Homo sapiens: one gene and its partners. The protein of the gene in region 7 purifies or fractionates together with the protein of the main gene of each other region. This does not show direct contact. Each region holds a gene or a part of one and is shown on either strand. Other genes may lie near its edges.

Evidence for each region.
Region 1: the proteins of ZNF777 (region 7) and SRBD1 purify together in Homo sapiens (affinity purification with mass spectrometry; one large-scale study listed by BioGRID and IntAct). This does not show direct contact.
Region 2: the proteins of ZNF777 (region 7) and SHCBP1 purify together in Homo sapiens (affinity purification with mass spectrometry; one large-scale study listed by BioGRID and IntAct). This does not show direct contact.
Region 3: the proteins of ZNF777 (region 7) and GAS6 purify together in Homo sapiens (affinity purification with mass spectrometry; one large-scale study listed by BioGRID and IntAct). This does not show direct contact.
Region 4: the proteins of ZNF777 (region 7) and SEC24A purify together in Homo sapiens (affinity purification with mass spectrometry; one large-scale study listed by BioGRID and IntAct). This does not show direct contact.
Region 5: the proteins of ZNF777 (region 7) and IPP purify together in Homo sapiens (affinity purification with mass spectrometry; one large-scale study listed by BioGRID and IntAct). This does not show direct contact.
Region 6: the proteins of ZNF777 (region 7) and KLHL21 purify together in Homo sapiens (affinity purification with mass spectrometry; one large-scale study listed by BioGRID and IntAct). This does not show direct contact.

What each region holds. Positions count from the first base shown.
Region 1 is NC_000002.12:45,388,180-45,391,267, reverse strand, and holds the end of SRBD1 (S1 RNA-binding domain-containing protein 1), read left to right. Parts: intron 1-1,668; coding exon 1,669-1,958; 3' UTR 1,959-2,588; downstream 2,589-3,088.
Region 2 is NC_000016.10:46,583,380-46,586,879, forward strand, and holds part of SHCBP1 (SHC SH2 domain-binding protein 1), read right to left. Parts: intron 3,427-3,500; coding exon of another isoform or gene 3,379-3,426; exon of another isoform or gene 3,350-3,378; intron 711-3,349; coding exon 624-710; exon of another isoform or gene 623-623; intron 279-622; coding exon 137-278; intron 1-136. UniProt on the Homo sapiens protein: May play a role in signaling pathways governing cellular proliferation, cell growth and differentiation. May be a component of a novel signaling pathway downstream of Shc. Acts as a positive regulator of FGF signaling in neural progenitor cells.
Region 3 is NC_000013.11:113,823,063-113,826,076, forward strand, and holds part of GAS6 (growth arrest-specific protein 6 precursor), read right to left. Parts: intron 489-3,014; coding exon 313-488; intron 1-312. UniProt on the Homo sapiens protein: Ligand for tyrosine-protein kinase receptors AXL, TYRO3 and MER whose signaling is implicated in cell growth and survival, cell adhesion and cell migration.
Region 4 is NC_000005.10:134,655,285-134,658,784, forward strand, and holds part of SEC24A (protein transport protein Sec24A), read left to right. Parts: intron 1-3,500. UniProt on the Homo sapiens protein: Component of the coat protein complex II (COPII) which promotes the formation of transport vesicles from the endoplasmic reticulum (ER).
Region 5 is NC_000001.11:45,747,854-45,751,991, reverse strand, and holds the start of IPP (actin-binding protein IPP), read left to right. Parts: upstream 1-1,338; 5' UTR 1,339-1,395; exon of another isoform or gene 1,396-1,486; intron 1,487-4,138. UniProt on the Homo sapiens protein: May play a role in organizing the actin cytoskeleton.
Region 6 is NC_000001.11:6,590,224-6,592,869, reverse strand, and holds the end of KLHL21 (kelch-like protein 21), read left to right. Parts: 3' UTR 1-2,146; downstream 2,147-2,646. UniProt on the Homo sapiens protein: Substrate-specific adapter of a BCR (BTB-CUL3-RBX1) E3 ubiquitin-protein ligase complex required for efficient chromosome alignment and cytokinesis.
Region 7 is NC_000007.14:149,458,263-149,462,546, reverse strand, and holds the start of ZNF777 (zinc finger protein 777), read left to right. Parts: upstream 1-1,484; 5' UTR 1,485-1,732; intron 1,733-1,958; exon of another isoform or gene 1,959-2,400; coding exon of another isoform or gene 2,401-2,517; intron 2,518-4,284. UniProt on the Homo sapiens protein: May be involved in transcriptional repression. Inhibits cell proliferation through CDKN1A/p21 induction by down-regulation of NIBAN1/FAM129A at low cell density.

The DNA of each region.
Region 1 (3,088 bases), on a different chromosome or scaffold from region 7:
AATGCTTGGCTATGAAAGTGTTAAAGTTTGCATGGTACACAGAGGATTTTCTGATTTCTCAGTGTCCCCAACTGTCTTCAGGAATATGTTAAGTAGTTCCTGACTCTGATTTTCCTTGCAAGATTAAACTAAACAGCTGATCAGGAACCCTTAGGGAATCTGCAGCAGCTGGACCTCCCCAAGAAAAGAGAGAGAGAGAAAGAATTTCCAAGCATAAAAACAATGCCTATGGGGTCTCGGAGACCCGTCCTACCTCTGCCCCTGATCAGTGACTTAGTTCCACTTTGCTTTGACACAGCCTTAGCCTGGTGTAATATTACATTACAGTAGGTTTCTTGCTTTTGGAATTCACTGCTTTAGCATCAGGTAAAATTCCACAGAATCAATTCCAATTTTAGCGTACTCATTTTTATGTGTACAGTGAGATTTGGAGTTTAAAGAAGGTTTTTATTTTGTTTTATAAGAAAAAGCTTAATTTTTAAAACGTCTTGGTATCAGTATGGTTGGACTGGGGGAAGGGAAGAAAGGGGTGACCAGTTGTTAATACAAATGTAAAGGATAGCTTTAACAAGTCATCAGGATAAAGCCAACAGCTGTGGAGGAAAAGGAAATGGAATGGGTGGAGGGGAAAATGAGGCCTTAGTAAAAGGAGATCCAAGCATAGAATGTGTTCTTTGTTATTAGAGTCAACACTCAGTAATCCTAGGAAAGGGGGCCTTCAGGAGGAGCATGGATAAATGGAGTCCACAGATAATCCACAGCCCCGTTTAAACTGTTAGTTCTAACTCTAACTGTCTCCCTCATAAAAACCTTTGTTTTTAACTAGAACCATAATGATTCCTTGGCATGCTTTATGCCTACCTTTTGGACAATAATGAACAAAGAAATGTATGCTGGGGTGAGCAAGAAAAAAGGGCTATAAAGAACTTGGAAACAGAAATCTGTATCTTCATCATTGTTTCTCTAGCACCCAGCAGAGTGCCTGGCCAGGAGATAATAGAGTTAACAAATGTTTGATGAATTTAATTGAAAGAAGAGAAAGAATATTAGATACTACCTGGTCTGGGATTCTGAGCCATAGATAATCAAGAATCCATAAATGTTGATTGGATAAATATATATGAAATAGGTGGGAATTGATTTTCTGAGTTCCAAATTTGTGGGAAGAAGTGAGGAAGAAAGAACATTTGAATTTCATCCACATTTGGCCAAAAGTTGATGTACTTTCTACCATCTTTAAACAATTTAATAATCCAGGCACTGGGGGAAAAACCAAAAAAAAAGCTTCCAGTCTCTTGTTTCCAAAGGTCTTACTTTCTCAGTGTTTGTGGTTTAGCTTTGTATATTTGTTAAGCAAATATATATTCTCATCACCTCTTCACAAAGAGGAAAATAAGACTGTCTTCTCGATCCTTATGTATAATGCTAGTGTGTAGCATTGTAGAAGGAAGTAAATTTTCTTGAATTGTTTCTACTGCATGAATGCTGTCTCCAACTGATATGCATGTTCTCTGAAGGCAAGCGTTGGTCTGCAGCTCCTTTTATAATCCCCCCTTAATCTTTAATATTGGTCTGGGCACATAGTATGTAGTAAGTACTTATTCACAAAGTTATGTTGTATCTAGGAAGTACAATGCCTTATTTACACTTACTTTTTTTCTCTTACAGATTTTGATAAACCTGATTTCAAGAGAAGCATAGTATGCCTGGAAGATCTGCAGATTGGGACAGTTCTTACAGGCAAAGTTGAGAATGCCACTCTCTTTGGAATTTTTGTGGATATAGGAGTGGGGAAATCTGGGCTGATTCCCATACGAAATGTAACAGAAGCAAAACTTTCAAAAACAAAGAAGAGAAGAAGCCTTGGACTGGGCCCCGGAGAAAGAGTGGAAGTCCAAGTACTCAACATTGACATCCCCCGATCTAGGATTACTCTGGACCTCATTCGGGTGTTATGAGTATCCCACGAAGGCCAGACGCTGATTTTATTTTCTCATTTCCACAGATTGACAAGGATAAGTCAGTTGTTTGTAAACTCTAGGTAGCAGATGAGAAATAATTCACTTAATATCAGAAATATTTTCCAAACACTTTCCTTTATTTTTTCTTCTGAATAAATAGAAAACCAACAGTTTGATTTCCTTTTCCCTTAAAGGAAACAACTAATACACATTCTTATATGGCTTTATGTAGTAATAGTTTTCTGACTAAAATTTTGTTTTTTATTTTTTGTAATTTATCTTTAACTCCTTTTGCATTTTGTATAACAGATTGCTTAACTTCTACTTGCCAACATCTGCCTTGCTGGACTTGTATGGGATTGTCTTCTTGATTTGAATTGTACCGTCTTTGTTGACACAGTAGGGCTGGGCAGTGTTTAATCCTTCCATTTTATAGATTTTTTTTTAATCAGGCCTTTTGGACTTCATTCATAATTTTGCAATAATCTCTTTTCCCTTGTCATGCAAGCCAAAAATATACCAGTAAAACAGATTCTGACGTGTTTGTAGTTATCAAATGAATGGCTCGAAACACTTCTCAAAAGGATATACGTATTGACCCCAACAATAAATGTTTGTGGCTAGTGACTTGTTTTTTGCTATGTTGATTCAGTGAATGACCTAGAAGTCAGTCTTGATGAAAAAAGATATGGTTTATGCAACCTTTGGAGAAGAGGGAAGCCTTTGAAAATTTGAAGAATGGTTTTGTTTGATTTAGCATAGAAGAGTGTGTCCTTTCTTAAATCAGAATTAAACTTCAAATGGGGATAGAAATGGCCGTTTTAAAGATCAAATATAGATCAGGTGTGAAGGGACAAGAAAAACAAGTATATAAAGGAAGTGACTCTTATTCCATTTTTATTTAGTGGAGATGGTAAGGATTAGCATGACCATTCAGGATCAAAATAAAGCCCACAGTGGACTGGTATCCTGTTCATTCTGACTACTGCTGCTGCTGTTGATTTGCCTGATGAAGATATTTGTATGACTGAATGAGTGTCTGGTTTTCTCCATGCGTGATAAGTAGGGGATAGTTACTAAAGACGACCAGTCTTGTTCATTTGCCTAGGAAACACCCATTGTCCTGG
Region 2 (3,500 bases), on a different chromosome or scaffold from region 7:
AAGCTTCTCTCTCTCCATGCCCAAGCATATCCCAACAACCTTTTTTAAGGAAGAGAGGAAGACTCAGATCCTTAATCAGCATTTAATGCTGAAATAAATTATGTCTGGTTTTTATATTAAAAATTACTAAATATACCTTCAGTTCCATCTTCAGCATTTTCTTGCAGGTCAGAGAAGATTGTAGGTTTCACCAAGACAACACCATAACCTTCATTATTATGTATTATATTATTCACCATGGATATCTTGGGAATGTCATAATGTTCATCTAAGAAGTCCTGTGACATTGAAAACAAATGTTTTAGGAACTGTCATATTCAACATTTCCTGCCTTAAAAATCTTCTTTATTCACACTATTCTAAAAATAAAAGGAAAAAGCTATGTTTAGTCCCATGTTGTAGCACAGTCTGCACCCTTAGTGACACAGCTTTCCTCTGTCATTTCTGCAGATCTATAGGTAACAGCATTCTCACAAGAGATTCCAATCACTGATATTATCAAAATGTGTACACTGTTTATGCTTTTCAAAACCAGAAAATAGAACCCAACAATTTAATAAAGCATAATTTGTAGGTAAAACCATTCTATCCATTGAAAAGTGGGTGTTTTGGCTGATGCTCACCTTAATGAGGATCCCTTCCTTGCAGTGATGGATCCCATTGTCACTCAGGGTGCACTGACTCCCAGGGTAGATTTCTATACCAGCACCCTGTGAGTCACAGTTTGAGATAATGACAATCAGTTTTTAAAAGGCAAGACTATAAGAGTTTATTACAATTACTTCTTAGCCTTTAACACAGTACAAATGTACAGCACAAAGATAAAGTACTTTACAGATAAGTTTTACCAGCCATTTTTAATCAACATTTCCATTTGTTCCATTTCTAGCAAGTTGTTGACAATTTATCATTTTCAAAACCACACACACACACACACACACACACACACACGCTAAGAGTGCCAACACTTGATTCTTGCTCTACTCTCTTTCATTCTAGATAAATGTTTTCTGATTCTGCCAAGAAAAAAAAAAAGTCATTTAACAATTTTGTTGAAAGACACACTTATTCAAAATGACCATTCTCTCAGATACTCAATTAGTTGGAGATAAGTATTTGAATTTAGTAAAATATTGTAATTTGAGGATAGAAACAAGACCCCACATTTTCCAAAACGTGTCAGTTTTAAAATACCCCAACCCAACTTAAAAATCATTTCTATGAGTCCAACAATGGCTTTCCCTACCACACACGTTAACATCAGCAGCCAGTTCAAGTGTCATTCAAACAGAGTAACCAGAAAGATCAAACATGACACTATTCTCTCATACCTTATGGCACCAAAAAACATAAAAATAGTAAGAATTTCTTTCCTAATGCTATGCAAGGCACTCTGGAAAACAAAAATGATTCACTCAAACCTCTATAGTTATTTCAGCAACCATTTGGGAATAATTTAATGCACAACAGCATCGATGAAGAAGAGTTGCTGTAACCATTGATGACACATCTAATGCATGTATGTTCAGTTAATTTTCTAGTAGCAGTAGTATTCCATGAGAAAACATTTATTATTACTTAACCCTGTACATATGCCTGAACCATATGTATACACCAATCTAACTCTTTTGTAGAGAGGATTTTAAAAATGTGCTAATTGTGTCTTCTAAGAGATTTTCAGTTTGGGGTTATGTGCAAAAAAAGATTTTGGGGCGACTATGTTTAAAAATATCTATAGCAAGATGGTTAAAATTAAATATCAAACTGTCAGGAATCACATAAAATTTGTAAAGGAGAACAATTTAAACCAGCAGTCATGTAGCAAGTGAAAGTCATATTCAAAATATGTTATGAAAAGGAACAGATAATTTGGCAATTAAAAAGTAACTGAGGAGCCTGCCACTTCTGGGATGATGGAGTAGATGTCCCTATTCCTCCTGCTAGGTACGACCAAAAACCATGGGCATTATATATAAAACAAGCATAAGACTGAAAAATGGAGAGAAGAAGGCAGACCAGCTAGGGACCTCAGGACCCAAGAAACAACACCAACACAGTGGTAAGTTCCTTTCTTTTTGCTTCATAATCCCTAGACTTGGAGCTGAAGAAGCCAGCAATCCAGTACACCAACAGACATACACCCAAAAAAAAGCTGCTCTAACGAAAGGACTAGGCAACCTAGAAAGAGGAAAACTTTTAGATAATAATAGCTCTATTCCAGGTAAACACCACAGAGCCAGGACTTTCATCCCCACCAACCACAGTTGCAAGGCCCTCCCTGCAGCAGTGTCAGTGAAAACTATATGAGGAGCCTGGACTTGTACCCCCACCTGGCAGTGCCAAGACAACCACTCCCTCCCTACTGGGGCAGTGTCAGAGCAGGCCTAGTGGAGATTCCAGACTTTCACCATTGCCCACTGGTAACAAGACCACTCCCATATATCACAGTGCCAGTGGAGACCATGTAGGAAGCTAGACCTCCCACCCCTACATAGCAGTAAGAAGGAGCTCCCCCACCCAACTTGGGTATCAATGAACGCCAAGTGGGAACCATGACTTCTACCTCCACCAGTAACAAGATGATACCCATCTACCGCCAACCCTGTCCCTTCTTGTAGTAGTATCAGAGAAGCCAAGTTAAAACAGAAGATCCAGATTCTCACAACATAATATAAAAATATCCAACTTTCATTTGAAAATCCCTTGTCATACCAAGAATCAGGAAAATGTCAAAATGAATAAGACAATTAACAGATGCCAAAACCAAGATGTCAGAGATGATAGAATTAACTGACAGTGATTTTAAAGCAGCCATGATAAAAATGCTTCAATAAGCAATTATGAACACACATAAAACCAATGAAAAATGAAGTCTCAGCAAAGAAGTAGATGATATAAAGAACCAAATGGAAATTTTAGAATTGAAAAATACAATAACTGAAATAGAAAGCTCAATGGATGTGCTCAACAGCAGAATGAAAACAACAGAGGAAAGAATCAGTGAACTGGAAGACAGAACAGTAAAATTTACCCAATAGCAGAGAAAACAGTGAAAAAGAAAAGTAAACAGAGCTCCAGGGGTCTGCTGGAATATAACAAAAGATCCAATATTCATGTCATCAGAGTCCTGGAAAGAAAGAGGGTGAGGCTAAAAACATACTTCAAGAAATAGTGACTAAAAGCTCCCAAATTTGGCAGGATTTGGATAATAAGCCTACAGGTTCAAGAAGCTGAGCAGACACCAAACAGGATAAACTCAAAGAAATCCACGCCAACATACATCATAATTAAACTAGTGTAAGCTTAAAACAAAAATCTTGAAAGCATCAATTAAAATTTTATGCCTTACCTATAGGAGAGAAAATGTGATTGACAGCATCAGAAACCATGGACGTCAGATGAAAGACACACAGTATTGTTCAAGGGCTAAAAGAAAAAAAATTGTCAACCCAGAATCCTATAACCAGTGAAAATATTCTTCAGGAATGAGGAGGAAATCA
Region 3 (3,014 bases), on a different chromosome or scaffold from region 7:
ACCAGAGACTAATTCAGATTGCTGTGAGCCACCATCTGCCCAACCGAACAGGGGAAAAGCTCCCACACTGTGAGCCGAGTGTGGCTCGCAGGCGCCGGCCCCCTCAGCTGTGTGGCGGTGACCTGGTGTCCAAACAACCCCCGCAGCCCGAAGCGTGGCCCACGCCGGGCTTGGCTCATCAGACCTCTGGTCAGAGGCTTTGGGGGTCCCTGGGGATCCCACCGCGGGCCCCCTTCGTCCCCTGCCAGGGAGTGCAGCCCACGTACCCGTGGGTCGAGCCGGTCAGGACGCCCTGGGTGGCGGAGGCCCTACCTGCTTCTTGAGTTTCTTCGTGGAGTGATAGTCTACCAGTGCCACAGAGAGAGGCACGGCACGGAGGTCGGGGGCCCAGAGCGCAAACAGCACGCCTGTGTCTGCGGCTGGGCGGATGTGAGCCACGACTTCTACTTCCCAGGTTGATTCAGTCCCGACGTCCAGAGGGGTCCGCACTGCAATGAAAGCGGTGCATTATAGGGTGGTATGCACGGTGGAGAGGCCACAGTGAGGTCGGAGCAGGGCCTCGAGAGATGCAGTCCCAGCCGGGGTGGGAAGCTGTGCAGACAGCCCCGGATCTGGGACGTGATGGAAAACTCAACAGACTGGTTCAGATCTTGGCCCGGAGCCCAGAGGCACCGGGGACCCCCAGGCTGTTTCTCCCTGGCCACACCAGTACCCCACTTCCAAATGCCCTGTAGGTGACCACCAGGCCACACAGGCCCGTCTGAGGGGCCACAGGCTGTGCACCATGGGACGCAGGCCTGTCCCTGCCTCCCTCCGATGTCCTCTTGTTTCAGGAGCGCCTGACAGCTCCTTCCTCAGAGCGTGCGTGGCCTCGTGCCTCGCATCTCACCTGCAGCTTTCAGGTAGCAGCACAGGGCCCAGTGGGGGCTGAGAGTTTAAGATAGCATGCGGACAGGAGCTGTCATGAGCACGGTGGTCTGGGGTCTGAGCTGTCAGGAGCACGCGCGGTCTGGGGTCTGAGCTGTCAGGAGCACCCGCGGTCTGAGTTCTGAGCTGTCAGGAGCACCGTGGTCTGGGGTCTGAGCTGTCGGGAGCACGCGTGGTCTGGGGTCTGAGCTGTCAGGAGCACCCGCGGTCTGGGGTCTGAGCTGTCGGGAGCACGCGCGGTCTGGGGTCTGAGCTGTCAGGAGCACCCGCGGTCTGGGGTCTGAGCTGTCGGGAGCACGCGCGGTCTGGGGTCTGAGCTGTCAGGAGCACCCGCGGTCTGGGGTCTGAGCTGTCGGGAGCACCTGCGGTCTGGGGTCTGAGCTGTCAGGAGCACGCGCGGTCTGGGGTCTGAGCTGTCAGGAGCACATGCGGTCTGGGGTCTGAGCTGTCGGGAACATGTGTGGTCTCCCAGGGAGAATGCCACGGCATATCCTCTCCACGCTGAGCCCTCCGTGGACTAAGAAGCCAGAAGAAAAAACTTCCGCCCTGTTTTCAGTGTTTCTATCTCACCCAGAATTCCAAAGTCCTGATAAAGAAGCTGTTTTAGGAAAAAGGACCCCAAATCACTGTGTGTACACATTTGTGACTGGGCGCCTCGCACTGCAGGCCAAGGTTGGGGTCAGAGTGAATTGTGCTGGTTTCCCTGTCTCTTTCCCACGGGGCTGTGTACGCCTGAAACCCACATCGCCTGTCCTGCCTGTCCCTAGCTGGTACCCGCCACATCAGTTCTCAACAACCATTTATGGCACCGAAACACACAAAATCAGAAAAAGTAACAAAAATATTGCAACAGAATCAAAAAGTAACAACAAAAAGTCTCCTGTTTGCCGGTCTTCCCATAACCTGTGAAGGGAGAGATGATGGTGTTCTTTAAAATGGAAGCTCCCAGTCGGGCGTGGTGGCTCACGCCTGTAATCCTAGCAATTTGGGAGGCTGAGGTGGGTGGATCACCTAAGGTCGGGAGTTCGAGACCAACCTGACCAACATGGAGAAACCCCATCTCTACTAAAAATGCAAAATTAGCTGGGTGTGGTGGTGCATGCCTGTAATCCCATCTACTCGGGAGGCTGAGGCAGGAGAATCGCTTGAACCTGGGAGGCGGAGGTTGTGGTATGAACCTGGGAGGTGGAGCCAAGATCGTGCCATTGTACTCCAGTGTGGGCAACAAAGGCGAAACTCCGTCTCAAAAAAAAAAAAAAAAAAAAAAAAGGAAGCTCCTGACAGGAGGCTAGGCACATGTTGGCCATCGGGGCTTCACAAGGGCACCGGCCTCTGCTCTCCCCGGGAAGGTTTCCCGGCTCCACGTGGCCCCTTGCATGGAGGCTGCACAGACCCGGAGATCTGCAAGCCTGAGCCCAGCAGAGTCGCTGCAGAGTGAGCCAGGCCAGTACTACCATTCCCAGCAAGTCTCCTCTGTCTTGTAAGAGACGTTACTGGTATAGTTTGAGATTCACTGGAAATGCATGGAGCTGTAACTGCTTCTGTCCGGATAGACCAAAAAGGGCCGGCAGACGCGGCCGGCAGTCACTGGAAATGGCCCCTGTGATGCCTGCATAAGGTTACCCCTGAGAAATGTGTATGATATTAAGTGGAAAAAGGATTTAAGCATTTCATATGACATGATTTCGTGTCAAACATTATGATGCTCTAGATTTGGAAGTCCAAAAATCAAGACTGAGGGAGAACGCGTGTGCACAGTCAGTCCAGCCAGTGGCAGATGGCGCTTTTCTCAGATGCCTTTCCTGACACGGTCACGCTTTTGACACCCGGGGGGAGACGGTGACACTGGATCTGGCTCAGGACGGGGCAGGACCCTCCCCTTTGCTCCGCGTGGATCCCCTTGAACCTGGGGTTCCTGCTGGGTGCTTGAGGGCCGGCAGCCCTGAGATCTGACGGAGGGGGCGCTGCCTGCCCTCTGTGCGTGTGGGGGCTTCACCATAAACGGCTCGGTGTCCAGGAATAGGGCAGGGCTGTGGTGCCCCAGTGGGGCCCACGTGGGGTGGGAATGTGAGGCAGGGTGGGGCCGA
Region 4 (3,500 bases), on a different chromosome or scaffold from region 7:
TCATCTGCATTCATTCTTGCCTCTAACTTTCTAATTTAGCTTCTTTACCCACACATCCCAAAATTGTCCTTAATAAGGCCACAAGGCTGGGCGTGGTGGCTCATGCCTGTAATCCCAGCACTTTGGGAGGTCAAGGCGGGTGGATCACAAGGTCCGGAGTTCAAGACCAGCCTGGCCAACATGGTGAAACCTTGTCTCTACTAAAAATACAAAAATTAGCCGGGTGTGGTGGCGTGCGCCTGTAATCCCAGCTACTCAGGAGGCCTCAGCCTCCTGAGTGATTCTCAGCAGGAGAATCACTTGAACCCGAGAGGTGGAGGTTGCAGTGAGCCGAGATCATGACATTGCACTGCAGCCTGGGCGACAGAGCAAGAATTCATCTCAAAATAAATAAATAAATAAATAAGGCCACAAATGGCTTCCTGGTTATTAAATAGAAAAATATTTTTCAGTTCTCATTTTCCGAGCTGCATTTGATACCTTTGGCTGTTATTTTGTTTTTACAACAATTGCTTTCTTTGGTTTCTAGGATATCACCAGAAGGGTAGTTATGGTTTTCTTTCTTTTTTTTGGTTGCTATTTCTCAACAGCAGTATTCTCAATATTTCTTCCATTTCTGATTGTTTTTTTCTCTCTCCTCCTTAAATATTGGTGTTCTTCAAGGTGACCTATTTTTCTTACTCTTATATACTCCCTGGGTGTCTTTAATTCCCATGGTTTTAAATCTTATGCATAGATCAGTGACTCCCATAATTATATCTTAAGGTGAAATCTGTCACTTTGGCTGCAGCTAAATATCTTTTTTTTTTTTTTTTTAAGACAGAGTCTTGCTCTGTTGCCCAGGCTGGAGTGAGGTGGCACGATCTTGGCTCACTGCAACCTTTGCCTCCTGGGTTCAAGCGATTCTCCTTTCTCAGCCTCCGGAGTAGCTGGGACCACCGGCATGTGCCACCACACCCGGCAAATTTTTTGTATTTTTAGAAGAGATGGGGTTTCACCGTCTTAGGATGGTGTTGCTCTCCTGACCTCATGATCTGCCCGCCTTGACCTCCCAAAGTGCTGGGATTACAGGCCTGAGCCACCGCGCCCAGCGCAGATAAATATCTTTATACTGGACATCTCCACTTAGATTTCTTGGTGGCACCTGAAAATTAGTGTGTTTAAAATAACTCTTCGATCTCTCTTCCCTTTGCCATTCCCCACCTTTGTTTTTTTGAGACAGAGTCTTGCTCTGTCAACCAGGCTGGAGTGCAGTGGCACGATATCCGCTCATTGCAACCTCCGCCTCCCAGGTTCAAGCAATTCTCCTGCCTCAGCCTCTGAGTAGCTGGGACTATAGGCGTGTGCCACCATGCCCGGCTAATTTTTGTATTTTAGTAGAGACGGGGTTTCACCGTGTTGGTCAGGCTGGTCTCGAACTTCTGACTTCAGGTGATCCACCCACCTCGGCCTCCCAAAGTGTTGGGATTACAGGCATGAGCCACTGCATCCGACTTTTTTTTTTTTTTTTTTTTTAAAGACAGCTCTCATTCTGTCGCCCTGGCCGGAATGCAATGATGCAATGATAGCTCACTGCAGCCTTGAACTCCTGGGCTCAAGTAATCCTTGATCCTTGATCAAGTGGGTGGAGTGGCTCATGCTTGTAATCTTAGTACTTTGGGAGGTCGAGTCAAGAAGATCCCTTGAGCCCAGGAGTTCGAGACCAGCCTGGACAACTTAGGGAGACCCCATCTCTACAAAAAAATTTAAAAATTAGCCAGGCATAATGGTGCACGCCTGTAGGCCCAGCTACTCAAGAGGGGAGGTGGGAGGATCGCTTGAGCTTGGGAGGTCGAGGCTGCGGTGAGCTGTGACACTTCAGCCTGGGTGGCAGAGCGAGACCTCATTTCTGAAAAACGCACACACACACACACACACACACACACACACAACCAAAACTTATATTTTGTAGAGATAGGGACTTGCTATTGCCCAGGCTGGTCTCAAACTCCTGGCCTCAAGTGATCCTCCCACCTTGACTTTCTAAAGTGCTGGGATTGCAGGCATGAGCCACCGTGCCTGGCCTACATTTCTATTCTTTTCTCTTTCTGTTCAAATGAATAAACACGGCCATCCACCAGGTTGCTCAGGTCAGAAACCTAGGAGTCATCCTAGATTTTTTCCTCTCTTCATCACCCATATTCAATTCCACATAAAATCCCATGAATGCTGTTTCCTCAAATCAGTTTTTAAAAATTTGAGTAATGTATAGATACTAAATATTTCTCTGCTGTCCCAATGTTAAATTATTTATTTATTTATTTTACTTCTGACACAGGTTCTCACTCTGTTGCCCAGGCTAGAGTGCAGGGGCATGATCACAGCCCACTGCAGGCTTGATCTCTTGGGTTCAAGTGATCCTCCCGCCTCAGCCTCCCAAGTAGCTGGGAATATAGGCACGTGCCACCACAACTGGCTAATTATTTATTTTTTTGTAGAGACGAGGTCTCACTATATTACCCAGGTTATTCTTGAACTCCTGAGGTCAAGCCGTGCTCCCACCTTGGCTTTTCAAAGTGCTCGGATTACAAGATCAAGCCAACATGCCTGGCAAAAATTATTTTTATTAAATGTGTATATGCAAACACAAAACTAGATGTAAACTTCATAGGGTTATAGCTATTGTACTATTGTAAAACCAAACATTAAAAATATCAACATATGGCTGGGCATGGTGGCTCACGCCTGTAATCCCAGCACTTTGGGAGGCTGAGGTGGCCAGATCACTTGAGGTCAGAAGTTCAAGAACAGCCTGGCCAACATGGTGAAATCCCGTCTCTACTAAAAATACAAAATTAGCCAGCGTGGTGGTGCACACCTGTAATCCTAGCTACTCGAGAGGCTGAATGAGGCAGGAGAATCGCCTGAACCCAGGAGGCGGAGGTTGCAGTGAGCCGAGATCGCACCACTGCACTTTAGCTTGGGCAACAGAGCGAGACTCTGTCTCAAAAAAAAATCAAAAGCAATATAATTCAATTTTAAAACATTAAACAATATGCTACATTTTGTTTGAAACCACAGTTGATTTGATTGTTTTAATTTTGAATATGTTGGAACATTACTTGGGTGACTATCATGCTCACTTTTTCCTTTTTGTTTTTGAGACACGTTCTCACTCTGTAGCCCAGGGTGGAATGCCTAATTATAGCTCACTGAAGTCAAACTCCTGGGCTCAAGCAGTCCTCTTGCCTCAGCCTCCTGAGAAGCTAGATCTACAGGCATGTGCCACAACTCCTGGCTAATTTTTTAATTTTTAATTTTTTTGTGTGGAAATGGAGTCTCGCTGTGTTGCCCAGGCTGGTCTCCTACTCCTGAGCTCAAGTAGTTCTGCTTTGGCCTCCCAGTGTGATGGGATTACAGGCATGAGCCACCATGCCCAACCTCTACACGATTTTAATAGGGGAAGAATGGGGTGGGGGAGAGGACATTTACTGGAAAACAGACGACTTATAGGAAGGATA
Region 5 (4,138 bases), on a different chromosome or scaffold from region 7:
TTTGCTGACAATAGGTCCCTGTTAGCAGTTTTTGGTAATGAAGTAGAAAAGAAGAAATAAAAATTTAGTGCACTGCGGGTCGTAAGTGTAAACATAGTTTTGTGAAGATTTTGTTTCAGGCCAGGCACAGTGGCTCACACCTCCCAGCACTTTGGGAGGCCGAGGCGGGCGGATCACTCGAGCCCAGGAGTTGGAGACCAGCCTGGTCAACATGGCGAAATCTTGTCTCTACTAAAAATACAAAAAATTAGCCTGGCGGTGGTGGCACAGGCCTGTAGTCCCAGCTACTCAGGAGGCTGAGGTGGGAGGACTACCAGAGCCCAGGAAGTCGAGGCTGCAGTGAGCCGAGATGGCACCACTGCACTCCAGCCTGGGCGACAAAGCCAGGCCCTGTCTCATAAAAAGAGAAAGAAATACACTTTGGGAGGCCGAGTCGGGCGGATCACCTGAGGTGGGGAGTTTGAGACCAGCCTGACCAACATGGAGAAACTCAGTCTGTACTAAAAATACAAAATTAGCCGGGCATGGTGGCGCATGCCTGCAATCCCAGCTACTTGAGAGGCTGAGGCAGGAGAATCGCTTGAACCCAGGAGGCGGAGGTTGCGGTGAGCCGAGATCCGGCCATTGCATTCATTCTAGCCTGGGCAACAAGAGCGAAATTCCGTCTCAAAAAATAAAAAATAAAAATAAAAATAAAGAAATGAGATTTTATGTTAGATATATACTTCTATATATATACTCACAAGTATGTGGTATTGAGTTTGATGTAAAATATTTTTGTTCACCGTAGGCTGGGATCAAAACAGTTTGAAAGCCACTAATGTGACACATGAGGGTCAACAGTGAAAAAAACTGGACTTTTGAGTTCTTCCTTCCCCAAAATAAGTATCCCTTCAGTGCCAGGCTCAGTCATGCACTCAGAAAACGATTCGAGAGAACAGTAGAGAAGGACCGTGCCAGGTGTTCGGCTCGTCTCTGCTTAACTGAGATCCGCGGCCTTCTTGGGACACCACAAGAATCAGAGTGCAAGCGGAATGGAAAGGGCGAGCCAGCCGGCCCCAGCAGGCAGAAGCAGAGGCTTGCAGCTAAGCTGTTGATCCTTGGGGAAGCAAGCCCAAGCCCTGGGCCCCATCAGTGGGCACTGAGAGGCGCCAGCGGCCCAGTCTCCCGCGAGCGGAAGAACCTCGCGCACGCGCAGTGAAAACCCAGGGCCCGCGAAGCGTCCGAAGTCCCTTCCCACCGCCCGGCTTCGCCTCCAGTTCTCGGGGAACTGTACGGCCCAGTCACTCCCGCCTCGTCACCCCCGCCAGGTTTCCCCCGCCCTCTCCGGCCGGGGCTGGTCGCGACTGCGCGCGCAGGGCCTGAGCGGGCGCCGGAGGGAAGGGGAAGCGGCGGGTAAGGAGGGCCTGCGTTCGGGCGCGTCTGTGACGGGGTTGGGAACTTCCTCTTCTACTCCCTCCGGCTTTCCGGACCCCTGAGGACTGGAGTGAGAGAAGCCTCTAGAACTGTGTATTTCCTTGTCTTTCCTTCTGCCGCCGCAGGCCTTCCTCCGACAGTCTAAGTGTCGCCCTCCCCAGACCTTCTCGTCCGGACCGCTCCTGCCTCCCCCGCCCCAACTGGGGAATCCTGAGGCTGTGTCCCCAGTCCCTCTGTTGTCGCCTCGTTTGTCTGAGATCCCTTCCCTGACCTTTAGGTAGCGCAGGAACGATTATTAGCTTTTAGTGTAGCAGCAGTTTAGGGCTAGCTCTCTAGGCCGGGCCCCCAACTCAAGCACAAAGAACCACGGGTGTTTTGACACTTGTTCCGGGGATTCTTTCTGACACCCCTTTGCTGAAGCAGTTTCCACATGTTCCCAGCAGTGAATTCAAAGCCAGCAAACATAGGTCCGCTTTAGTTCCTCTGGGCATTTCTACCGTTTCCTAATAATCTGCTTTTTTTTTTGAGACAGTCTCGCCCCTTCTCCTAGGCTGGAATGCAGTGGTGCGATCACAACTCACTGCAGCCTCGACTTCTCAGGCTCTAGCGATCCTCTCACCTCAGCCTCCCAAGTAGCCGGAAGTACAGGCTTGCCCCATCACAGCCAGCTAATGTTAAAACAATTTTTTTTGCGGCGGGGGGCTCGCTGTATTGCCCAGGCTGGTCTTGAACTCTAGGACTCAAGCGATCCTCCCTGGCCGGGCGCGGTGGCTCACGCCTGTAATCCCAGCACTTTGGGAGGCCGAGGCGGGCGGATCACGAGGTCAGGAGATCGAGACCATCCTGGCTAACACGGTGAAACCCCGTCTCTACTAAAAATGCAAAAAATTAGCCGGGCGTGGTGGCGGGCGCCTGTAGTCCCAGCTGCTCGGGAGGCTGAGGCAGGAGAATGGCGTGAACCCGGGAGGCGGAGCTTGCAGTGAGCCGAGATCGTGCCACTGCACTCCAGCCTGGGCGACAGAGCGAGACTCCGTCTCAAAAAAAAAAAAACAAAAAACAAAAACAAAACAAAAAAAAAAAACAAAAAATCAAGCGATCCTCCCGACAGGACATCCCAAAGTGCTGGGGTTATAGGTGTGAGCCACCTTGCCCAGTCAACAATCTGCTTTTCAAGTTTGGGGCACGTGAGGCATGCAACGTCACAGAATTGTGCTCTTTTCCTTTGGAAATATGGTCACTCCACATGCCACCTTTTGGGATGACGTTCCTACTCCACTGACAGTGGGATGGTATCAGCAGTTACTGAGAAGCATGGTAACAGACTAGTATTTCTGTTGTCTGCCACCCGAATGGATATTCAGTCAACTCTTTCTTGTAGCAGGAGGCAGCATTTTAGCTCAGTGGCTGTGCTTGATGCCTTGAAGTAGGGGACAGAGGAGGTACCTTGTAATTAAACCACTAGGGTTCAAAATGTGCTGACAGAAATGTAAAACAGAAAAGGCCTGACAGTCATGTCATGTTGATAATAGTTCCAGGTCACATTTCTGTGTAGGGCCAAATACATGGTTTCTCCGCCCCCACCCCCTTTTTTTCCTTTTTTTTTTTTGAGACGGAGTCTCTCTGTTGCCCAGGCTGGAATGCAGTGGCTCCATCTCCACTCACTGCAACCTCTGCCTCCCAGGTTCAAGCGATTCTCCTGCCTCAGCCGCCCACGTCACTGGGATTACAGGCGCCCACCACCATGACTGGGTAATTTTTTGTATTTTTTAGTAGAGATGGGGTCACCATGTTGGCCAGGCTGGTCCTGAACGCCTGACCTCTGGTGATCCACCCGCCTCAGCCTTCCAAAGTGCTGGGATTAAAGGCGTGAGTCACCGCACCTGCTTTTTGTTGTTGTTGTTGTTGAGACACGGTCTTGCTCTGTTGTCCAGGCTGGAGTGCAGTGGCACCATCTCAGCTCACTGCAGCCTGGACTTCCCTGGCTCAGGTGGTCCTCCCACCTCAGCCTCCCCTGAGTAGCTGGGACTACAGGCCTGTGCTATCATGCCTGGCTAATTTTTTTGTATTTTTAGTAGAGACAGGGTTTAGCCATGTTGCCCAGACTGGTCTCAAACTCCTGGACTCAAGCGATCTGCCTGCCTCAGCCTCCTAAAAATCTGGGCTTACAGGTATGAGCCACTGTGCCCAGCCCCTTTCACCCTCTTTAAAAAATTTATTTTTCACTTCAATTTGGGTGACAGAGTGAGACCCTGTCCCCCAAAATAGATATTTTTTAAATTGGCACATAATAATTGTTTTATATTTACATTTATGAGGTACAGTGTGATATTTTGATACATGTATATAATGTATAATTATCAAATCAGGGTAATTACCATATTCATCACCTCAAACACTTCTTGCTATTATATGCTAGTTATATGTAATATGTTGATATTCTGTAGATGGTGATATGAAGTTTTAGCAGCTACCTTCGAATCTCTCAATCAAATTTCTCAATAAGTTAATTCCTAGAAAGTGATGATAATCAGCCTTGTTATTTTGACTTTGATAAGTTTAAATGCTATAAACGTAACCATTTTTTTTCTAACATCAGCCCACACTATAAGTCTTATTACCCATTGTCATTGATACCTAAATTACAAAATCTTAGTCATCTTAAATTTCCCTGTGCTATTCCATATGTCTTATATTACAGGATCTCATGGTTTTTTTTTTTTTT
Region 6 (2,646 bases), on a different chromosome or scaffold from region 7:
AGCTCCTGGCCCCTGCCAGGGGCTTACATCAAAACACCTCAGAGGGCTGCCCTCCAGAGGCTGCACCCAGAACAGTGGGACATGAGCAGGGGTGTGGGCTTGGAGGGTGAAGAGGATGTGGTCCTATCAGATGCTGGGCCTCCTCAGCCATAGCCCCCTGCTCCTACCCCCTGACTGGCTCTTGCGTCCTCACCTCTCACCCTCTCCTTCCCGGGAGGCCCTGGGAGGTGATCATTGACACCCAGCCAAGCAGACAGCTGCGGGTGCCCAAGCCCTTGCTGGGCCTGCGCGTGAGGAGTCCCACTGCTTCTAAAGGAAGTCCTGGGCAGGAGGTGGCTTTGGTGGTTGGTTCCAAAGTTGAAAATGCTTGCAGTTTGACCTTAGAAGAAGTGGGAAGAAGAAGGAGCTCTACAGGGTCAGCTTTGTTTGATTTGTCCAGTCTAAGAAGTCCCATTGCCAAAGCTTTCTGCAGGAGGGTGAATGCCGCAGCTTGGCAGCCCCTGGGTTTCTCTTGGAAATGGTCAGTTTCCCCTCAAAGTACCCAAAGTAGCCTTGGCTTGAGTTTTTGTCCTTGCCTCCTTTTTAGAGAAGAGGGCATTTAGACTGCATTTTCCTGGTTAAAGAAGGTTAAAGCAAATGTTTATTGCCTTTTCTAGTGAACTAACTCGTAGAGATGTTCTCAGCAGGAAGACAGTCTTAGCACTGTCACTTAGCAGATTGCACTTAAGTCCCTTGTGCTGGCCAGATGGCGTGGCTGGTTGCCTTAATATGTCCCAGGACCCCTGACAGGGCTGCCTGGCCTCTCCCTCGTGCTCCTCAAGAGCCCAGTCCATACACTGTGGATGTCATTGCTGTCGGGTTAGGAAGTCTTGTCCTAGAACGCCCTGGCTGGTATGACCACAGTTCATGGCGGCTCTTCTCGCTTGGGTCATGGTCATCTTCCAGCACCTGCTGTGCTGGGAAGGCCGAGGATGGGGGCCCAGCACTGTCCAGGCCTGCTGGGGCCTGGCTGGGAGTCCTGTGGGCAGCATGGAACATGCAGCTGGGCTTCCTGTGACCAGGCACCCTCTGGCACTGTTGCTTGCCCTGTGCCCTGGACCTTTTCCTGCCCTTCTCCTTCCTCTGCTCCCTTGGGGCTACCCCTTGGCCCCTCCTGGTCTGTGCAAACTCCCTCAGGGAGCCCCCCTGCCCTGTAGCTCTCGCTTAACTTCCTAGGGGCTGCTGAGCCCACCCAGAGGTTGTTGGAGTTCAGCGGGGCAGCTTGTCTCCCTTGTCAGCAGGGGCGTAAGGGCTGGGTTTGGCCATACAAGGTTGGCTACGCCCTCAATCCCTGACCGTTCCAGGCACTGAGCTGGGCACCCACGGAAGGACATGCTGTCCAGACTGTGATGACTGCCAGCACAGGGCATCTCGGGCTTGGCTGGTCTGCGAGGCCTTGCCCCTGTGGAACTCTGGGTTCCTGTTTTCTCAGTCTTTTTTGCGGCTTTGCTGTGGTTGGCAGCTGCCGTACTCCAGGCTTGTGTCGGCCACTCAGATGAGGGCTGTGGTGCGAGCCAGTGCAGGAGAGCTGCGCTTGGGATTGTGCCCTCTCCTGTGTCTGTCCTCCGGACCTACCCAGGTCTCCACCATCAGGACCCTGTCTTTGGGTTTAGAAGACCAAGTATGGGGAAAACCAGGCACCAGCCTCTGCAGCAATGGGTCCCTCTAGCCTGTGGACACCAGCTGGGGGATCCAGGGTCAGGCCCCCTCCTCTCCCCAGTTTCCCTCTGCTGTGGGTTCTGGGCTGTCATGTCTCCACCACTTAAGGATGTCTTTACACTGACTTCAGGATAGATGCTGGGATGCCTGGGCATGGCCACATGTTACATGTACAGAACTTTGTCTACAGCACAAATTAAGTTATATAAACACAGTGACTGGTATTTAATGCTGATCTACTATAAGGTATTCTATATTTATATGACTTCAGAGACGCGTATGTAATAAAGGACGCCCTCCCTCCAGTGTCCACATCCAGTTCACCCCAGAGGGTCGGGCAGGTTGACATATTTATTTTTGTCTATTCTGTAGGCTTCCATGTCCAGAATCCTGCTTAAGGTTTTAGGGTACCTTCAGTACTTTTTGCAATAAAAGTATTTCCTATCCATTTGGAGTCATTGCCTTTGTCCTCCTGCTACTGTCTTCTGGGACTCTTGGGCTGAGGACAGATGTCAGGGGAACAGGCAGCATGGAGCCCAGGGTTCACACTGAGGGTCTTAAACAGCCTTCCAGGCCCTTTCTCATCTCAGATTGTAGCAAGTGATGAAGCGTTGGAAAAGACATGCCCCAGAGGCTGGGTGTGGTGGCTCACACCTGCAATCCCAGTGCTTTGGGAGGCTGAAGAGGGAGGATCACTTGAGCCCAGGGGTTCAAGACCACCCTGAGCAATACGGGAAGACCTTGTCTCCATTTAAAGAGAGAGGCCTGAGAAGTAAATGCTGTGGAACAGATGATGCCCAGGAAACCTGCCTGCTCCAAAGCTGGTCTTTGCCTGTTGGTCCTCTGCCCGGGCCCGGCTCCCACAGCCCTTCTTGAGATTGCGGTACATACAGGTGGTGATGAGACTCCCATCTGCGATGAGATGGCCCTTGGACCTGGGGAGGTGGA
Region 7 (4,284 bases):
ATTAATCAGGGAAATACAAATACAAATTAAAATAATGAGCTACCATTTCACAGTCATCATGTCGGCAAACGTTCTGAGTCCATTATCAGTAAGTATGAGCCAGGATGGGGAAAGAGAAAATCACACGATAGTGGGTGTGTAAGTAGGCACCATCCCTTCAGTGAGCAGTTCGGGAAGCCGGGGAAAGATGAAGGTGCTCTTGCCATCCAGAGTCCCATGTCTAGGCGTCTCTAGAGACGCACTTTAGCAGTGCACAATGAGACATGCATGCAGATGTCGCTGGCAGCAGGTTTGTTCTCATTCCTCTAGGGGGAATGGAACGTAAACTGTAGTTTATGTATTCAATGAAATACTATATTGTGGGTAAAATGAATGAACCAGATATTCTTGTTTAAACATGTCTGTATCTCAAAAACAAAATGACCCATGGAAAAAAGCAAGTTGCAACAGGATAGGGACTGGATAATATCATTCACATAAAATGTAAAAATACCAAAACCAGTAGTGTGCATTGTTTACGAATGCACACATGTTAGTTAATGCATAAAGACCTGGGTGAGAACTCTAGCCTCCGGGAAGGGAGGGGACAGGATGCATAGCTCTGGCCTTACCTCTATCTGTAACTTTCCTTTTTTTTGTTTTTTGAGACGGAGTCTTGATCTGTCCCCTAGGCTGGAGTGCAGTGGGGCGATCTCGGCTCACTGCAACCTCTGCCTCCCGGGTTCAAGAGATTCTCCTGCCTCAGCCTCCCAAGTAGCTGGGACTACAGGGCCGCGCCACCACGTCCAGCTAATTTTGGTATTTTTAGTAGAGACAGGGTTTCATCACGTTAGCCAGGTTGGTCTCGATCTCTTGACCTCGTGATCTGCCCACCTCAGCCTCCCAAAGTGCTGGGATTACAGGCATGAGCCACCACGTCTGGCCATAACTTTCCATTATCTGAGCTGCCAGCATACTGAGTCCTGTTGCCTTCCAAGACCAGCTCCACTCCTGGGGTTCCATTAGGTAAACACAATGTCCTCTGCTCCCCCCCGCCGTCTTCCCTCACTTAAGTTAGTTCCAGTTGGGCTTCATCGCTAGTAACCAGGACGCCTGCCTATAGTTTCTTCTTTTTTTTTCCTTTTCAATTCATCCCCAGTTCTCGCCACCTCGTAGGTATTCAATTAATACATGTTTAAGTGGACCTGTCCAGGAAGGGGAGTTCTCAACTCTAAGCTCCTGCATTTCTTTTGGGACTTCTCATGGTTACAAAGAGCATTCATTCATACTGTGACTGAGGGTAAACAAGTCGCTGCCCACTCGGCCTCAGTTTCCTCCTAAATGACCCGTCTGGCCACTTCCAGCCCCAGCAGGGTCTGATTCTAGGAATTCGGTCCTTTCATGTCGAAAACAACACTCGGGCATTTCACAAAAGCACCCAACCCCCTGGCTCCCCTTGGAAGCACAGCCCGCGTCCCTGGAACCCGGGCTGCACTGAGCTGGTCACATGAACTCCGGGCTTTCTCTGGTGTGACGGGTTTCTTAGATCCCTTTGTGAGCGCAGGTTTTGAAAGGGAACGACCCCGGGTTCTGGGTGTGAGAGGCGCAGGGGATCGGCGGGAGGAAGGCTGTCGGAGCCAATCAAGCCGCCTCCAGACCCCAGCACGTCGCCTGGGCTGCGCGCTCCGACTGCGCCTCCGCCCGCGCGCCTCCCGGCCTCGCCCGAGGGTGCCTGGGCAGGCGAGGACCCCAGGTGAGAGGCCGGAGGGTCCTGGAGGGTGGGAGGCCCCGGCGGTTCGGCCCGGGCTCCACGACGGGCTGGCCCGGGCTCAGGGCGTGTCCGTCGCCGCCGGGCGGCTCGCTCGACACTGTTCGCTCCTACCGGCTGTAGATGGAGCTGTCTGGGTTCCGGCAGCCTCCGACGAGCCTCGGAGTGTTTCTCTTTAAACGGCCTGAGAGGGACATGCCTCCCAGGATGCAGTTTGTAGCAACATGGCAGCTGCTGTGCAGCTCCCCTGCTAAAGAGGCGCCGGGACGGCAGCGCAGCTCGCAGCCGGGGCCGGGGCCGGAGCTGGGGTCCCAGCCGCGGCCGCAGAGGGGCGGCGCGCGGGCCGGGGGCCGCCGTTGAGGGCCGGGGCCCAGCTCGCCGCCGGGACGCAGCCGGCCGGGCCGCCCGCACAGCCGCGCGCCCAGCTCCGACGCCGCCGCTCGGGCTCCGCGACCCCGCGCCCGCTCGCCCCGCGCGCCCCGAGCAGGCCGGGGCCCGACGGCCGCGCGCGAGCCCCGGCGGGGAAGACAGGGCTGGGCCGGCGCCGCCTGCGGAGAGCGCCGGGCGGCCGGGCCTGCGTGGGGCCGCGCGCAGTAGCGGCGGCGGCAGTAGCGGCGGCGACTCCGGGGGCCCGGGCCGGACAGCGCAGGGCCATGGCCGAGGCGGCCCCGGCTCCTGTGAGGGCGGCCCGCGCGCGCACGGACGCGCGGCCTCGGGGCCCCGGGGACGGCCTGCGTGTCCCGGGCTCGGCGGCCCGGCCTGGGATCTCGGTAAGGGGCAGAAACGCTACGACGTTGGCGCGGGGGGTGGGGGCGCCCTGGAGGGGGCCCGCGCGTCTTGACCCGGGCGGTGGGGGAGGGCTACGGGCCTCGCCGCCGTCCGTGCGAGGGAGGCTGCTCTCACGCCCGGCCCGGCACACACGCGGCCCCGAGGTGGGGCGCCCGGAGGCGCGCTCGCTCCCTGCGGGGCCCGCGCTGCGTCCGTCGGGGTAGCCGCCGGCACGTTTTCCGCAGAGCTCGGCCCCGCGGAGCCTTCCCCGGCCCGGGCGCGGCGCTGACGCGGCTCTCCCATTTCGCAGAACGGAGACACTGAGGCACAGACACCTGGCGGCGACCCGCCCTGCCGGCCCCAAGGTCACGTAGCAAGGCATCCGTGGCACGGTGCGGCAGCCCCAGAAAGGCCTGCCCAGAGGGCTGCGGGCCTGGACGGGGAGGGGGTGGCTCTGGCGGCGGCCGCCCCTGGGTGAGGGGCTGGGCCGCCCTGGCAGCGGACGCGGCCCGTCGGGGGCGGCGGGGGAGGCCGGGCAGCGCCCAGCTGGGCATCTCCGCGGTGGGAGCAGGTGACCCTCTGAGCTCCAGCCTCTGCCTCCGGCCTCTGCGTCTGGAAGGTCGTAGGCTAAACTTTGAGTGCCCTGACAGATGGTGTCTGGGGAGTAAGCTTCTCAGGGGTTGGGGGCTGATGTTCCTCTTCAGGAAGACACTCTTAAAAAATCATCCCTCAGATCCTCCCGCAGACCTGCTCTTTGAGACGCCCTGGCCGTGCTAGTGAGAGGATTACTGCATGGGAGTCAGTGCCTTTGAGCCTCAGTTTCCTATTGTGTACACAGGAAGGAGGCAGGATATATAGCTTTCTAAAAAGCATCCCAATTCTTTAATCAAAAAAAAACTCATGAGAAAATAAAATCAAACGAAGATGTTTACATGCCTTACTCTGGGCTCAGGCCTTCGGGGCCCTTGAATGGTATATAATGCTGGGTGAACCATACTGGGTCATTCAAAAAAATGCCATGACTTTCTTAATAAGTCAGATACTGTGGTTATGGATGCTTCTGCTAATGTGGCATGAATCCTGGAGAATCCATCCACTCCTGATCCGTCGGGGAAGGAGGGACCGTTAAATCCTACAAATATGGTTCAGAAGAATTCTCCCTCCAACCCCCTACCAGGAATTTGAGAATTTGAGCTTATTCGTTTTAGGTATATTTACAGCTCCCTCCCTCTCTTTGGTCATTTCTTTCTGCTTAGGGTAAGATAAGCGGCAGGTTTACCGGGATGGATTAAATTATAGCAAAGGGCTTTTATTTGGGAGGCGAGGGAGGGAACACCCTCCTGTGGCCCCTCTACAGTCCTCCAAATCCGGAAATGGAGAGAGACAGTCTAATAATAGCAAAGAAATAGTATTTTCCTTTGAGCTCTGATTTGTCTAGCTGGTAAAGATGCCTTGGTCTGCTGGCTCTGTTTACTATACTGGAGGGTTTTGTTTTGTTTTGTTTTGTTTTGTTTTGTTTTGTTTTGTTTCATTGTTTCAGTTAAACCTCTGCATTACTCAGAGAGACTAACTTGCTCCCCAGGGATTTTTTCCTCTTCTTCTTTCTAGTGCTAGGCAGATACCCTAATCTCCCTCTAAGGCAAGGGCTGTAATGTGCCTATTGTGTTGCGTTAGGCAGTCACTTTCCCTGAGAGCCAGGCGCCTAGCCTCCAGGGCCCCCAGCGCTTCCTTCACAGGGAATGAAGAGTTCAGAGGTGGCTTAGCTGTTG